Homo sapiens: one gene and its partners. The protein of the gene in region 2 interacts with the protein of the main gene of each other region in a pairwise test. Each region holds a gene or a part of one and is shown on either strand. Other genes may lie near its edges.

Evidence for each region.
Region 1: the proteins of SDF4 (region 2) and NR1I2 interact in a two-hybrid assay, tested with the Homo sapiens proteins (one large-scale study listed by BioGRID and IntAct).
Region 3: the proteins of SDF4 (region 2) and RAP1B interact in a two-hybrid assay, tested with the Homo sapiens proteins (one large-scale study listed by BioGRID and IntAct).
Region 4: the proteins of SDF4 (region 2) and ANXA7 interact in a two-hybrid assay, tested with the Homo sapiens proteins (one large-scale study listed by BioGRID and IntAct).

The regions. Positions count from the first base shown.
Region 1 is NC_000003.12:119,785,101-119,788,600, reverse strand, and holds part of NR1I2 (nuclear receptor subfamily 1 group I member 2), read right to left. Parts: intron 1-3,500. UniProt on the Homo sapiens protein: Nuclear receptor that binds and is activated by variety of endogenous and xenobiotic compounds.
Region 2 is NC_000001.11:1,225,502-1,229,001, forward strand, and holds part of SDF4 (45 kDa calcium-binding protein isoform 2 precursor), read right to left. Parts: intron 3,446-3,500; 5' UTR 3,293-3,445; coding exon of another isoform or gene 3,272-3,292; coding exon 2,967-3,271; intron 1-2,966. UniProt on the Homo sapiens protein: May regulate calcium-dependent activities in the endoplasmic reticulum lumen or post-ER compartment. Isoform 5 may be involved in the exocytosis of zymogens by pancreatic acini.
Region 3 is NC_000012.12:68,659,399-68,662,898, reverse strand, and holds part of RAP1B (ras-related protein Rap-1b isoform 1 precursor), read right to left. Parts: 3' UTR 1-3,500. UniProt on the Homo sapiens protein: GTP-binding protein that possesses intrinsic GTPase activity. Contributes to the polarizing activity of KRIT1 and CDH5 in the establishment and maintenance of correct endothelial cell polarity and vascular lumen.
Region 4 is NC_000010.11:73,376,059-73,379,558, forward strand, and holds part of ANXA7 (annexin A7), read right to left. Parts: intron 2,966-3,500; coding exon 2,853-2,965; intron 160-2,852; coding exon 37-159; 3' UTR 1-36. UniProt on the Homo sapiens protein: Calcium/phospholipid-binding protein which promotes membrane fusion and is involved in exocytosis.

The sequences.
Region 1 (3,500 bases), on a different chromosome or scaffold from region 2:
CCAAGTGTGGTGACATGTGCCTGTAGTCCCAGCTACTTGGGAGGCTGAGGCAGGAAGAACACTTGAGCCCAGGAGGTCAAGGCTACAGTGAGCCATGATTGTCCCACTGCACTGCAGCCTGGGCAAGAGAATGACACCTTGTCTCAATCAAATGAAAATAAATAAATAAATTTGTATAATGATGGCCAGGGATGGTGGCTCACACCTGTAATCCCAATGCTTAGGGGGGCTGAGGCAGGAGGATCACTTGAGGCCAGGAATTTCAGATGAACCTGGGCAACAACATGAGACTTTGTCTCTACCAAAAATAAATTTTAAAAGTGTCTGGGCATGGTGGCACACACCTGTAGTCCCAGCTCTCTGGGGGGCTGAGGCGGGAGGATCACTTGAGCCCAGGAGTTCGAGACTGCAGTGAGCCATGATCATACCACTGCTCTCCAGCCTAGGTGACACAGCAAGACCCTGTCTCTTAAAGTAATAATAATAATAATTTTTTAAAAAGTCAATGTACTTTGAGGGTGAGATAGTTCCTTCCCAGGAAAAGGATGTGGGGAGGACATACAGATAAATTTAGTCTTCAAATGAGTCAAAGCACAAGCTTTGGAACCAGGTCACTGAGATTATGGGAAGAGAAGAGTGGGCAACTTGAATTTGAAGCAACAGAGTCTAAGTAAAAGGGGGTAAATGGATAAAAAAACAAAAATCATAATCTTTGGGATAGAAACTCTTGGAGATAGCAGGATTATATTTAATTATGTGTGTGTGTATACATACATATACATACACACGATTACATATATTTAATTATGTGTGTATACACACATATATATACACACACGCATAATTAAATATATATATAATCATCCTACTATCTCCAAGATACACATACACACCACACACACACACACACACACACACACACACACACACACACACACACACATATTAATAGCAGAACTGGCCAGAGGATAAAGAGAAAAAAGCAAGTAAGGGGAATGTAATATAAGAATACTGAATTTCTAAGATGCAGGCAAGTGATGCCTATAAAACCATTGACGTTGTTCAGTGAAGGGAGACGTTTGGTGAATTTAACTCACATTTGCACAAGTTTTGCTGTTTACAAAATGATTTCAAAATTACAACTTCATGTCAAGGTGCCTGTGAGGAAGGCAGGGCAGGGCTTATCCCAAGTTGAATAAGGGAGTCGGGGGCAGGGCAGTTCTTATTATCCCTTTTGCAAATGAGGAAACTGGGGCTCTGGGGTGTGTTCCAGTTCATGAAGTCAATTAATGACGGAACTTTTTTTTTTTTTTTGGAGGCAGTCTCACTCTGTCCCCTAGGTTGAAGTGCCATGGTATGATCTCTGCTCACTGCAACCTCCACCTTCTGGGTTCAAATGATTCTCGTGCCTCAGCCTCCCAAGTAGCTGGAATTACAGGTGTGTGCCACCACACCTGGATTATTTTTGTATTTTTAGTAGAGACGGGTTTTCGCCATTTTGGCCAGGCTGGTCTTAAACTCCTGACCTCAAGTGATCCACCTGCCTCGGCCTCCCAAGGTGCTGGGATTACAGGCATGATCCACCATGCCTGGCCAGAACATCTTTTCTTTTCCCTTATTCTGATTCTTCCTGTCATGTAAATAGATACATGATGCAAGTTGTTTTTTCACAGAATTCATGGGGGCAAAATGAGGCTATATGTTTTAAATTCTTTATGAAACAAATCAAGTATTATTAACAAAACCTCCTCACTGGCCCTGGCATGGGGCAGGCCTCCAGAGGAAACTCAGATAGCCAAAGTCACGGTTTATGAATTCAAGAAAGAGAAGTCAGCTGCTCTCTTCAGGGGGCCATAAATGAAAATTGGCCTTTATGCTTCCTGGGACTTGGTCATCAGATCCAAGAGGTCAGAAGGTTACTAGACACAGATCAGGGTTGAGAGCTGGCACCAGCCCAGGTCATAAGTACACACAGTACCCTCTTCCAATATTTAACAGGACACAGTGGCCTCTGAGTTAACTGCCTATGTCTTATCAATGCATGTGTAGTGCCAGTGTTGCCTGTGGTTTTATAGTTTGACTCTTTGGAACTTACACAGATCCAGGAAAATTATTTCAAACATTACATGAGGGATTTGGATATGTCTCTTTATGTCAATTTCCAGTTGGATATTCAGTTTGTTATATCGATGTTTCAAAGAGGTTCAGGAGGTGTTGCAGGGAACTTTTCCCAGCCCCCTTCAAATTGTGCCACCTAAAAAGCCCCTGTATGCAAGAGAGGTTCCCTACACATTCCTCCTGTCCTCCCCAGGTTGTGCCCAGGACACCAATATCTGAAGTGTGAGGGCAAGAGTCTGATGGCTCAACAAACAGAACGTGGCAACCACACTAAGAATTTGAATTAATGTTGTCCACGTTCCCTGAATTTATTGTTCTTTTTAATGGAAAAATCATGGGTCTGCATTCCAAGGGTCCTAGTGGCTATTGGATCATCTCTGCTTCTATCACCCTTGGGATGAGCTATATAATTAACTATGGAGATATGATAAGGAAATTAATCAATGCTTAACAGCATTTAATAAAACTCAATATTCATTCATGATTTAAAATTCTTGGTTAACCAAGAGGAATAGAAGAGAGCTTCACTAACTTGATATGGAATAGTTACTAAACACTTTTACTAGCTATCTTATTGGAGAAGCATTAGAATCAATCTCATTAAAATAAAAAATAAAGATTTTATTGCTGGCACTATGATGGAGAAGTTGGTTACAGAAAATCCTCCTGGTATGCAGCACCTAGAAATACTAAATTTTTAAGAATGTCATTTTTCATGCAGGATTGAGCTGGTAGGAAAGTAAAGGAAGTCTCAAGAGGCCAAAATTTATAAGATTATGCTAAGCCAGAGGCATGAGAAAGGGAAGTCATGATCATCCTGGAGTTTTCTGGACTCCTGTAGGCCTGGGGCCTGGATTTTAATGGTAGAATAGGAGACAAAGCCTGGAGCCTAACCAGATCATAGACTATAAACTCAAGATCCCCTAAGGGTGACATCCTCAGTAGAAACCATGGAGGGAGACAGGTCTATCCCAGGCCTTCTCAGCCTTGGCTCTGGGTAGAGCAAAAAGAAAAGTCTCCTTTGAAATTCTTAACAACAGGCCTGCAATCAAGTAAGTTTGGGTCAGGATTCTCACTATTTGTGTGGCCAGTAGACCCCAAGCTTATGGTGGTCCCAGTTAGTTCTGTCCTCAGGTTCCTGGCAAAAGCAAAAATAAATCCTCTAGAGGAAAACAATTTCAATCTCAACAAGTCCCAAAGAGAAGTTTCCAAATGAGTTCATAGTACAAAATAAAAATGGAAATCAGGAACATGACAAGAATTCCTAGGACATCTAAGTGTTTGTAAAGAGTATCTCCTAGAATTGTGCAGTATAGAACCCACACAACTGTATGCATCACTTCTGAGACTATCTACTTTCATGGCTACTACTCAGCATTATG
Region 2 (3,500 bases):
ACGCGCCCCTCCCTCAGCAGCCGCAGCAGCCCAGAGGTGGACGGGCCTGGGAGGCACCCTCAGCTCCACAGTCCCCAAAACACACCGGCTGGGGACGGGGCCACCCGGGTGGCCATGTGGCAGGTGGGGCACCTGGTGGGTCTCACGTGGACACGTGCATCCTCGAATGCTCCGGTCACGCTCCACACGCGCCACAGACACAGGCCACACGCTCCACACGCCACAGACACGGGCCACACACTCCACATGCCACAGACACGGGCCACACACTCCACACGCTCTACACACTCCACAGACACAGACACACACGAGGCAGAGCAAAAAGCAAAAAGGTGGAAAGAAACCACATGGCGCAGGATTCCAGTCAAGATGTCGGCAAGGAGTCACTCATCCAAACTCAGGTGCCTGAAGACACGGCTGCAGGGCGGTGCACGTACATGGAGCTGGCACGCACACACGCAAGTGCACAGGCCGGTACCCACGTGTACACAGCACACACACGTGAACAGGGCTGGCAGAACACAGATGTGACTGGGCTGGTGCACACACGCATGTTATCAAGTTCTGGCTCCTGAGAGAACAAGGGCAAGACGCCCAGTGCCCAGACCCTGGCTTCCAGCTCCAGCCACGGGAGACAGGGCTTCCTGGAAAGGCGGCAGCTATTGCACTGGGGCAGGTGGCACGGAGGCGAGCCCAGAGCATCTCACCGTGCCAGGAAGCGGGAAGGAAAGCCTGGAGCATCTCGTGGTGCAGGGAAGCGGGAAGGAAGTGAAGCTCAAAAGCCCCTAGGACAGGGCACCTCCCCTCTGGATGCTCTTTCCAGAAACCCTCAACCCTGTACGGTCAGGAGGAAACATGGCACCTCCCCTCTGGGGGCTCTTTCCAGAAACCCTCAACCCTGTACGGTCAGGAGAAAACACATCCCACAAGCCCAAACTGAGGGACAGCCTAAAACCTCCTACCCAGCCCTTCTCAGAACTGTTACGTCCTCACAAAAACGGGAGAGTCTGAGACACCGTTCCAGCCCAGAGGAGACAGAGGAGACAGGACAGCTGAGTGAACGTGGGTCCTGGAGGGACGGGGCCCTACGCAGGAGAAGGGCGAGAAGGGACCCGCGTGTGGGAAGGGAAGTCTAAACACCCACAGCGGCCGCTGTCGCCGCTCGGCGCAGGAGTCAGGGAGACCCGGAGACCTGCTGTTACTTCCCACTCCCCATGCCCACCTCCTCAAACGAGACAGCTTGGGGTTTCGTTACAGGCACCAAAAAGAAACCCCGGTCCAGCTGGAGACGCACCGAGCAGAAGCCTCAACTCCCCTCGCCCAGGCGTGCAGCCCACCCCCAGCACCGGCTGAGCAGGGACGGGGACCCTTCCCCTGTGATGCCGCGAGCCAGGCCTTCGTGAGCTCAGGGGTGGTGAACCTGACAGGCCCCAGGGGCACCAGCAGCCTCTTCGTGGGTTGGTCAGCTCACCACCAAGTGAACTCAGGCCACGCAAGGACCCCCGAACCGTACCATCTGAGGAGAGGTGCAAGGGGACACCACACCTGGTGCCCAGGTCCTCCAGCTGGCACCGTGCCTCCGTCCCACCAGCTCACCTGTGCTCCGCCCGAAAGCCTGGATCCTCAGGGCCCTCCCGCCTGGCCCTCAGCCCAAGGGCCGTGGCACAGCCAGACCAGTCCTCACACCTTTCCTACCTGCTCCTGCACCCCAGGACCCCAGCCCTGCCCAATCCCCTTGCTCACCAGCTTTGCCACCTGCCCCTCTGCACTGGTCCTGGAGCACCAGGCCCGGCGGGAAGGCGAGCTCGTGGCCAGGCCCTGCGGGAAGGCGAGCTCGTGGCCAGGCCCGGCGGGAAGGCGAGCTCGTGGCCAGGCCCGGCGGGAAGGCGAGCTCGTGGCCAGGCCCGGCGGGAAGGCGAGCTCGTGGCCAGGCCCTGCGGGAAGGCGAGCTCGTGGCCAGGCCCTGCGGGAAGGTGAGCTCGTGGCCAGGCCCTGCGGCGGGGGCTGCCTCCTTGTGCCCAGGTCTCGCAGGTCCCAGGAGGCCCAGGGTGTTCTCTCACCTGCACCTCGGCTCCCTGCCCGGCACCCTGGCTGGCCTGGGGGACTCACGGGCACGCCCTGACCCTGCTCTGCCTCCAGGGGTGAGGCCAGCGCTGAGTGCAAGTAGGTTCCAGGGCCACACCGCAGGGCACCCCGGCCGTGCCGTAAGGAGTAAGGCGCCCGTGCAGGACCTGGCTCCTTGTGGGTGAGTGGTCAGGTTGACCCATCTTGGACCCCTCACAACAGGCTCTCGAGACTCAGGGATGGGGTCGGGGGAGAAAGCTCGGCACTAGGCACAGAGGCAGCAAGAGGGTCTCGGGACTCAGCAGGGTGGGGGCAGTGACGGCCAAGGATGGGCCACTGACAGCACAGCTCTGCTCCCGACCAGGCCAGCAAAACAAGCCAACCCCACACACCCCCAGCCTGCGTGTGATACGCGGCCCGTGTGTGACAGGGACCCCAAACACACAGGGTAGAGGGCGTGTCAGGAGGAGCCCAGAGCACCCTGTACCAGCTCTCCAGCCACCTGTGGCAGCCCCTCACTCCTCAGCCAGGCCTCGTCCAACTGGGGCTGCAGCCTGCGGAGGCTGCCCGTGGCCGGCGTCTGCCCCTCAGCATGGAGGACGCTGACCACTGCAGTGCCGCGTGGGCTCCTCCAGGCTGTCCTAGGGACGGCCACACAGGCCCACTCTGGCCCTCTGAGCCCCCGGCGGACCCAGGGCATTCAAGGAGCGGCTCTGGGCTGCCAGCGCAGGCCTCCGCGCAAACACAGCAGGCTGGAAGTGGCGCTCATCACCGGCACGTCTTCCCAGCCCGGCAGGTCCCGACACAGGGCCCGGCGCCCCCCACCGCGCAAAGCCAGGATAGGAACACACAGGCGAGCGCACGCGGACAGCCCCCCAGTCTGGGCACATGGCGGCACCTACTTGGAAAAGATGACCATCAGCTTCCTCCGGCTCCGCCGCGGCTCCGCGTCCTCATCAAAGCCACCCAGGTCCTTGCCTAGGAAGACCTCCTGGTGGAAGCCGCGATTGAGGTGCCCGTCCATCTCCAGCTTCACCCCGTTCAGGTGGTCTGGGGGCAGGATCTCATTCTCCTCCCTGTTGGCTACTCTCTCTCGAGTGGACGAGTGGTTGGCAGGCCGTGCAGACGCGTCCATCAGAAGGACTGCCCCCAGGAGCCAGAGGCAGCACGGAGCCAGGCCAATGAGGGGACCCCACCTGGACGCCATCGCCACCCAGGGCCAGACCATGGGGCGGGCTGCAGGGTGTGGGCCAGGTGCTGGGAGGGGCAGGGGCAGGGGCAGAGGAGGAAGTGAGGTCCTGGCTCCAATCCAATCCCCGGGCACCACGGAGGGCTCTGTGTCCCCAGGACGGCCGCAGGATGGGGACAAGCAGCTCACAGTCTGCAGAGAGACACAGACACATCATTAGCAAGACTCAGCAAAGACTTCCCCAAGC
Region 3 (3,500 bases), on a different chromosome or scaffold from region 2:
CTGAATAGCTGGGACTACAGGTACAGACGTGCACCACCATGCCCAGCTAATTAAAAAAAAATTTTTTTTTGTAGAGATGGGGTCTATGTTGCCCAGGCTGTCAGATTTGTTTTGTTTGAAAAAAAAATTTTAGTCTTACAAATCACAATGTTAAGGCTCACTGACAGATTATGAGACAAGCCTGCAAGCACTTTTAAGGCTTCTAAGGTAATAGTAAGAGTATTAATTGTAAAACACTATAACTCCCTTTTACATTTCCAAGATTTAAGAAGAGATAGAATAGATGGAGATTAAATTCAATGAAAACACAGATAAGAGTTTAACTCAAAGAAAAGTTGTAGTGATGAGTTTCGATTCTAAGTTTGCTGTCCCACAACTAAAGACGGAATGATTTAAAAAAAAAAACGGCAAAACTTCATTTTATAAATGGAATTTTAAAAATTTCTATTTGTAATGCCCACATATGGTAAAGATGAGCTATTTACGTTTAAGAAACAACTGAATCAACAAGAAAGTCAATACAGGGTTTTTACACTTTTTAGAAAAATGTAAGTGAAAGACCACTCTGATTTTCTCCTAAAACTCAAGTTTCTTCAAGTATCCTTGGGGACGTGAAAAGGAATTCATGCCTTTTCTGACTCAATTATTTTAGTATTTTCCCATTAAGCACCAGAAAAGTCAATCTACATGAGTTGTGCTCCCAAACTGCAGTTACTATTTTGTATAGGAGAAAATGGTGCTTTTTGCCAAACCACAGCCTTATTCCTATCAGCATTGAAAAAAATAAATTATATATATAGTATTATATAGACCTCCACTGTACTACATATATATATATACTCTCTCTATATATGTACTATATATAATATATATATATATATATATATATAGACCTAGAGGATAGCACTGGCATTCATTTCACTCTCCTATGAAGTAGGTATTATCATTCTCATTTTACAGATGAGGAAACCAAGGCACCCAACCAAAGGCATATAGTAGGAACTGGAAGAGCTGGGATTAAAAACCCAGGAAGTCTGGCTCCAAACTTTATATTCTTATTCACTATATAGTAAACCATCCATCTTGTAACCCTAACACTCATCTGTAACTAATGTGTTGTTTCCCACCAGAGCAGTAGTTCTTCACCAGGGTGATTTTGCCCTCCAAGTTCACCTCCCTTGTCCCCCAACAATCCAACTGGGGAACATCTGGCAATGTCTGGAAACATTTTTGGTTGCCACAACTTGGGGGCTGGGGTGGTGTGACTGGCATCTAGTGGGCAGATATTAAAATTCCTATAATGCACAGGAGAGTCGCCAGAATACATTATCAAACATAAAACATCAATAGTGCTGAGGCTGAGAAACTCTTCAATAGAATATAAATTCTAGGAGGGCAGCATTTTATAGTTGATCTTGGTTGCTGCTACATCCTTAGGCCTAGAACAATTTTTATACTTAAGTACTTAATTTGTCCAATGAATGAATATTTAGCTGTTTGAGCCTAGAACTGGGCCTGGTACATAGCTGGTAGGCAGCAAACATTTATTAAAAGTAATTATTGAATAATGGCGGTATCAATGGATGTAACAGGACATAGTAAATTGAAGTAATTTTAGTGTTTCACAGTCCCAGTTTTTTGGGCTTAATTTTTTTCCCAAATGATTATAAATAAAACCAGTTCTGCCAAAACAAGTCCCTTTTGTAAAGAATCAGACTTTTTCTTAACATGAAAGCCTTTAAAAATGTATCATTCAAACAGCGTGTATTTAGGGGATTAGCAGATACCCCTCTATTAGATATTATCACTGATTAATTGCTCCAGTAGCTGGCAAATACTTTCAAAAAGTTTTTTAAGAGCTTTACAATTTTTAAAAAGTTTTAAAATAATTCTATAAGAATTCAGTTCTTACAGAATTCAATTATAGCATATTTAAGAAAAATATCGATTCTCTAAGTGCTTAATCCACATCACTCAAAGATTTTTATAACCACAATATTCTAACTTCAATCCTGTATTTTAAAAAATCCATAGTGTAACATCCATGAAAGTATGTTAAATCGTTCCTCTTTTACCTACCTCATCAAATAGCTACTGAACATTACCCAAAGGCATTTATTCGTAAGTAATACTGCTTGATTTACAAAATTATTTCTCAAGGAAAAGTTCAAAAGGTGGTTATGTGGATATTCAAACAATACCAGAAAACTCGCTACTTCCTTATTCCTGTAATTAATGAGTCTGGCTTGCCCAGATGTTAAATTATGAAACCATGCTGTGTAAAATGCACCTATTACAATTAAAACCAGGGTAAACCCGTATTTATTTACTAGCACTGTTAAAACATTACACAAAACACATTCAAGTGGCAAGTAATTATAATGCAAGCCCTTGCATGGCAATCCAAATTTATTGAACTACTGATGCTAAGTTATACAAAATTGCACCACTTTAATTAAGGCTTTTAGTTTACATTTGGCCACCTCAAAGTAGTTGTAACATTAGGTTGGTCAATTTAAATACTGTGGCTCCCTGTTGGATAGACACACAATCTTTACATCCAAACATTAATGCATACAAAGCAACAAGGCATTGTTAAATAAAACAGCAATAGTTACTGCAAATTAGGCCTTGTGACCAATTACATATGATTAAAATTACTTCCCACATTCACATCCACAGTACTCGTCCACCATTTAACATCTCAACCAAAACGTTACACATGTGAAACAATCACTAACAGGCAAAAATACTAAACCTGTATATTTGGTATTGCAAATACACTTATGCATGAGCAAGCAAGGGATTCACAGTGAGAATCTACAGCTGCAGAAGCCTGAAAATGATTTACAAAAATTGTTAAATCATTAAAAAATTGTTTGAAAATATACACTTCTTGTTGTAGACCCCCACTGTACACACGACTATAAACATTGTTCCCTATGTAAACAAAAAAAGGAAACATATAATAAGAGATTTGAAAAGTCTGGACATTTCCTTCCCAACAGATATTAAAGGCAACGTCTTTAATCTAAGACATTATACTGAAAGGACTATCATGTTTTAAAGACAAGATCACCGTCTCCACAGGTTTTTTAAAAATTAAAAAAACTATATAGCTGTGTTAATCAAAGCGCTTATTTTGTACAATAATAATGACCTTGAATTTCTTAAAAAAAATTACAATAAGCTACAAGTATCAAAGAAGCGAAGTTATCTGGAGTAGTCTATATAGGAGCTCTTTGGACTTTCTTTTATTATGCTAAAATAGTGGTGCTTTTAGGATTTACATTATTGTACTCTCCAATACAAAGTATGGGGCATGTTAAAGTATACAGTACACCATTTTCATACATGTACAACATTGGTGGATGAAGAATGTCTCTTAGCAGTAATACTGGATGTAGCCTCTGGTTTTACCAGCTGCAAACTCTAGGACTATTATATAAGTAAAAATCTCTCTTGTGATACTGGAAAGTGATTAGAATGTGCAAACTGAT
Region 4 (3,500 bases), on a different chromosome or scaffold from region 2:
AGAAATTTTTTTTCATTAAAAAAAAAAAAATCCCTCCTACTGGCCCACAATAGCCAGAAGAAGTCTTCGGTAATCTCCACTCGTGTCACCTGCAATCATTGTGCCCAGAGTCTTCTGATACATCTGAGCGAACATCTGTTTTATTTGTACAAGGTCAATCTGCATAAGAAATAATATTTCTGTCAGAAAAACATCTGTGACAACTGACATTTCTTAAAATTCTTTTTAAATAATAAGATCTTAATAATAATCAAAACTTGGGGGGGAAAACACCAAGTGACTGACATTTTATGGCTGGCACTCATACCAATGCTAGCACTACCCAATGAAGGTCTGATTCACAGCTCTGTAAAATACTTGGTCAGGGTAGTACTAGTTTCATCTATTATTCCAAAGATATTAGTCATTTAAAAACATTTGATAGGATGGCTATTATCAAAACCAAAAAAATAGTAAGTATTGGCAAGGATGCCATGAAATGGGAACACTTGTACACAGGTTGATGGAAAAGTAAAAGGGTGCAGCTGCTGTGGAAACTAATATGGTTAATTCCTCAAAGCAAAACAAAAACACTTCCAAAGAATTACAATATGACCTAGAAATTCCACTTCTGGGTATATTCAAAATAAGTGAAAGTAGACTTGAACAGATATTTGTACATCCATGTTCATAGCAGCATTATTCAGGCAGAAACAAACCAAGTGTCACAGATGAATTAAAAAAAAAACCAAAAGGTGGGATACACGTACAATAGACTATTTAATTACTCAGTCTCAAAAGGAAGGAAATTCTGACATGCTATAACATGAATAAACCTTGAGGACGCTATGCTAAGTAAAAGACAACACTCACAAAAAGACAAATATTGTATGATTCCACCAATATGACGTACCTAGAGTAGTCAAACACAGGCACAGAAAGTCACATGGTTTGTTGCCAGCAGTTGGGAGAAAGGAGAATGGGGAGTTACTGTTTAAGGAGTATGGATTTTCAGTTTTGCAAGTTGAAAAAACATCTGAAGGTGAATGGTAATGATGGTTGCATAACAATGTGAATGTACTTACTGCTACTTAAAAATGGTAAATTTTTATGTTATGTATATTTTATCACAACTTAAAACATCCTGCTTTGAAAATTTAAGTTAAAGAACAAAGTTTTTTTCAAAATACCATATTCTGGTTGTTTTCTTTAAAAATAATCTACCTTCTTTAGTATAATTTAGGGTTTTTGGCCGGGTGTGGTGGCTCATGCCTATAATCCCAGCACTTTGGGAGGCCGAGGCAGACGGATCATCAGGTCAGGAGTTCGAGACCAGCCTGACCAACATGGTGAAACCCAGTCTCTACTAAAAACACAAAAAAATTAGCCAGGCATGGTGGCACGCACCTGTAATCCCAGCTACTCAGGAGGCTGAGGCAGGAGAATCACTTGAACCCGGGAGGCAGAGGTTGCAGTAAGCCGAGATTATGCCACTGTATTTCAGCCTGGGTGACAGAGCGAGACTCCATCTCAAAAAAAAAAAAAAAAAAAAAAAAAAAAACACGCAATAATAATAATAATTTAGGGTATTTTTTTGACACAGGGTCTCTGTCACCAAGGCTGGAGTGTAGTGGTGCGATCACGGCTCACTGCAGCCTTGACCTTCCAGGCTCAGGTGATCCTTCCACCTCAACATTCTGGGTAGCTGGGACTACCATGCCGGGGGGTGGGTGTGGGTGTGTGTGTGTGTGTGTGTGTGTGTGTATTTTTTGTATAAATAGGTTTCACCGTGTGTGTGTGTGTGTGTGTGTGTGTATTTTTTGTATAAATAGGTTTCACCATGTTGCCCAGGCTACCACGCCCCGGCGTGTGTGTGTGTGTGTGTGTGTGTGTGCGCGCGCGTGTGTTTTTTGTAGAAATAGGTTTCACCATGTTGCCCAGGCTGGTCTCAAACTCCTGGGCTCAAGCAATCCTCCCGCCTTGGCCTCCCAAACTGCTGAGATTACAGGAGTAAGCCACGACACCCCGCCATGTTTTCTTTCAATTAAAAGTTCAGGCCAGGCGTGGTGGCTCACGCCTGTGATCCCAGCACTTTGGGAGGCCGAGGCAGGTGGATCACTTGAGGTCAGGAGTTCGAGACCAGCCTGGCCAACATGGTGAAACCCCATCTCTACCAAAAAAATACAAAAACTTAGCTGGGCATGGTGGCGCACACCTGTAGTCCCAGCTACTCGAGAGGCTGAGGTGACAGAATTGCTTGAACCCAGGAAGTGGAGGTTGCAGTGAGCTGAGATCGTGCCACTGCACTCCAGTCTGGGTGACAGAGTGAGACCATGTCTCAAAAAAAAAAAAAAAAAAAAAAAATTCAAATGTCATTTCTTCTGAGAAAAAAAATTTTTTGTAAGTGGAGTAAATATATAAAGTACAATTTTTAAAAATGAGGCTATACTTGAGACAATTATGAATATTTTAAAAATTGTTTTATTATTAATAAAGGATGCTAAATTTAAATAATGTTGATATCCACTAGGATTAATCTACATAGGCCTTTCATCTAATTTTTATATAAGCAAAATGAAAATCGAAAGACAAATGTCTAACTTCCCATAAATTTGTATTCTCCATTGACGTTCTCAAGTTGTAAAATCTGTTAGTATTATCTTCATTAGGGTAGAGTGGCCTATTTCACTAATGCAAGCTTCTCCCACAGCATGAGGAAAGTGAATTTTCTGTTCTTTATACCACCTCTTTTAGGTGGCAAAGAGAGCTCTTTCTTATCATTTTTGAGGGACTGACAACCAACTGGGGAACTTTTAAGAAATCAACATTGAACATCAAGTAAGACCCGACAAAAAGAGAGAGGCCTGCCTCACCTCACTTCGAGTGACCACAATCCGGACCAGGGTGGAGTCATCTGTGCCAGCACCTTTCATAGCATAGTAGAGCCTCTCAGCAAAGAAGGCAGGGCGGTTCAGGGCACACTGCACTGCAAGTTAGAGATGGTTGAGACATGGAATCATGATCTCACAAGAAGTGTACCCCTCCAGCTTCATTTATCACTTATAGCCTGCCTTTGATTATTTTCTCTGTAATCATCACAGAAACATGGGGTGAGTTAAGAGTGTTCAGATGCTCTCCTTGATTTTTTTTGAGACAGGTTCTCACTCTGTCATCCAGCCTAGAGTGCAGTGGTGCAATCATGGCTGACTGTAGCCTCCCAGACTCAGGTGATCCTCCCACCTCAGCCTTCTGAGTAGCTGGGACTACAAGTGTGAGCTACTGCCCCTGGCCCAACATTCCATTGTTAATACCAAAGTGTTACTAATACTCCCCTTAGTCCTAATATCCATGAGAATGAAACTTTCACTTTGTTAGACATCTGTGTATTAGACCACCAGAAACTGGTTAACTTCAAAAAGGAAATGAGTCTCACTGGGCTGAGTACCTGAAATATCTGTTTTGAGGACTCAAACTGCTTCGTGGTGACACTGTGAGTTCCTCAGGACTTTCCCTTTCTCTTT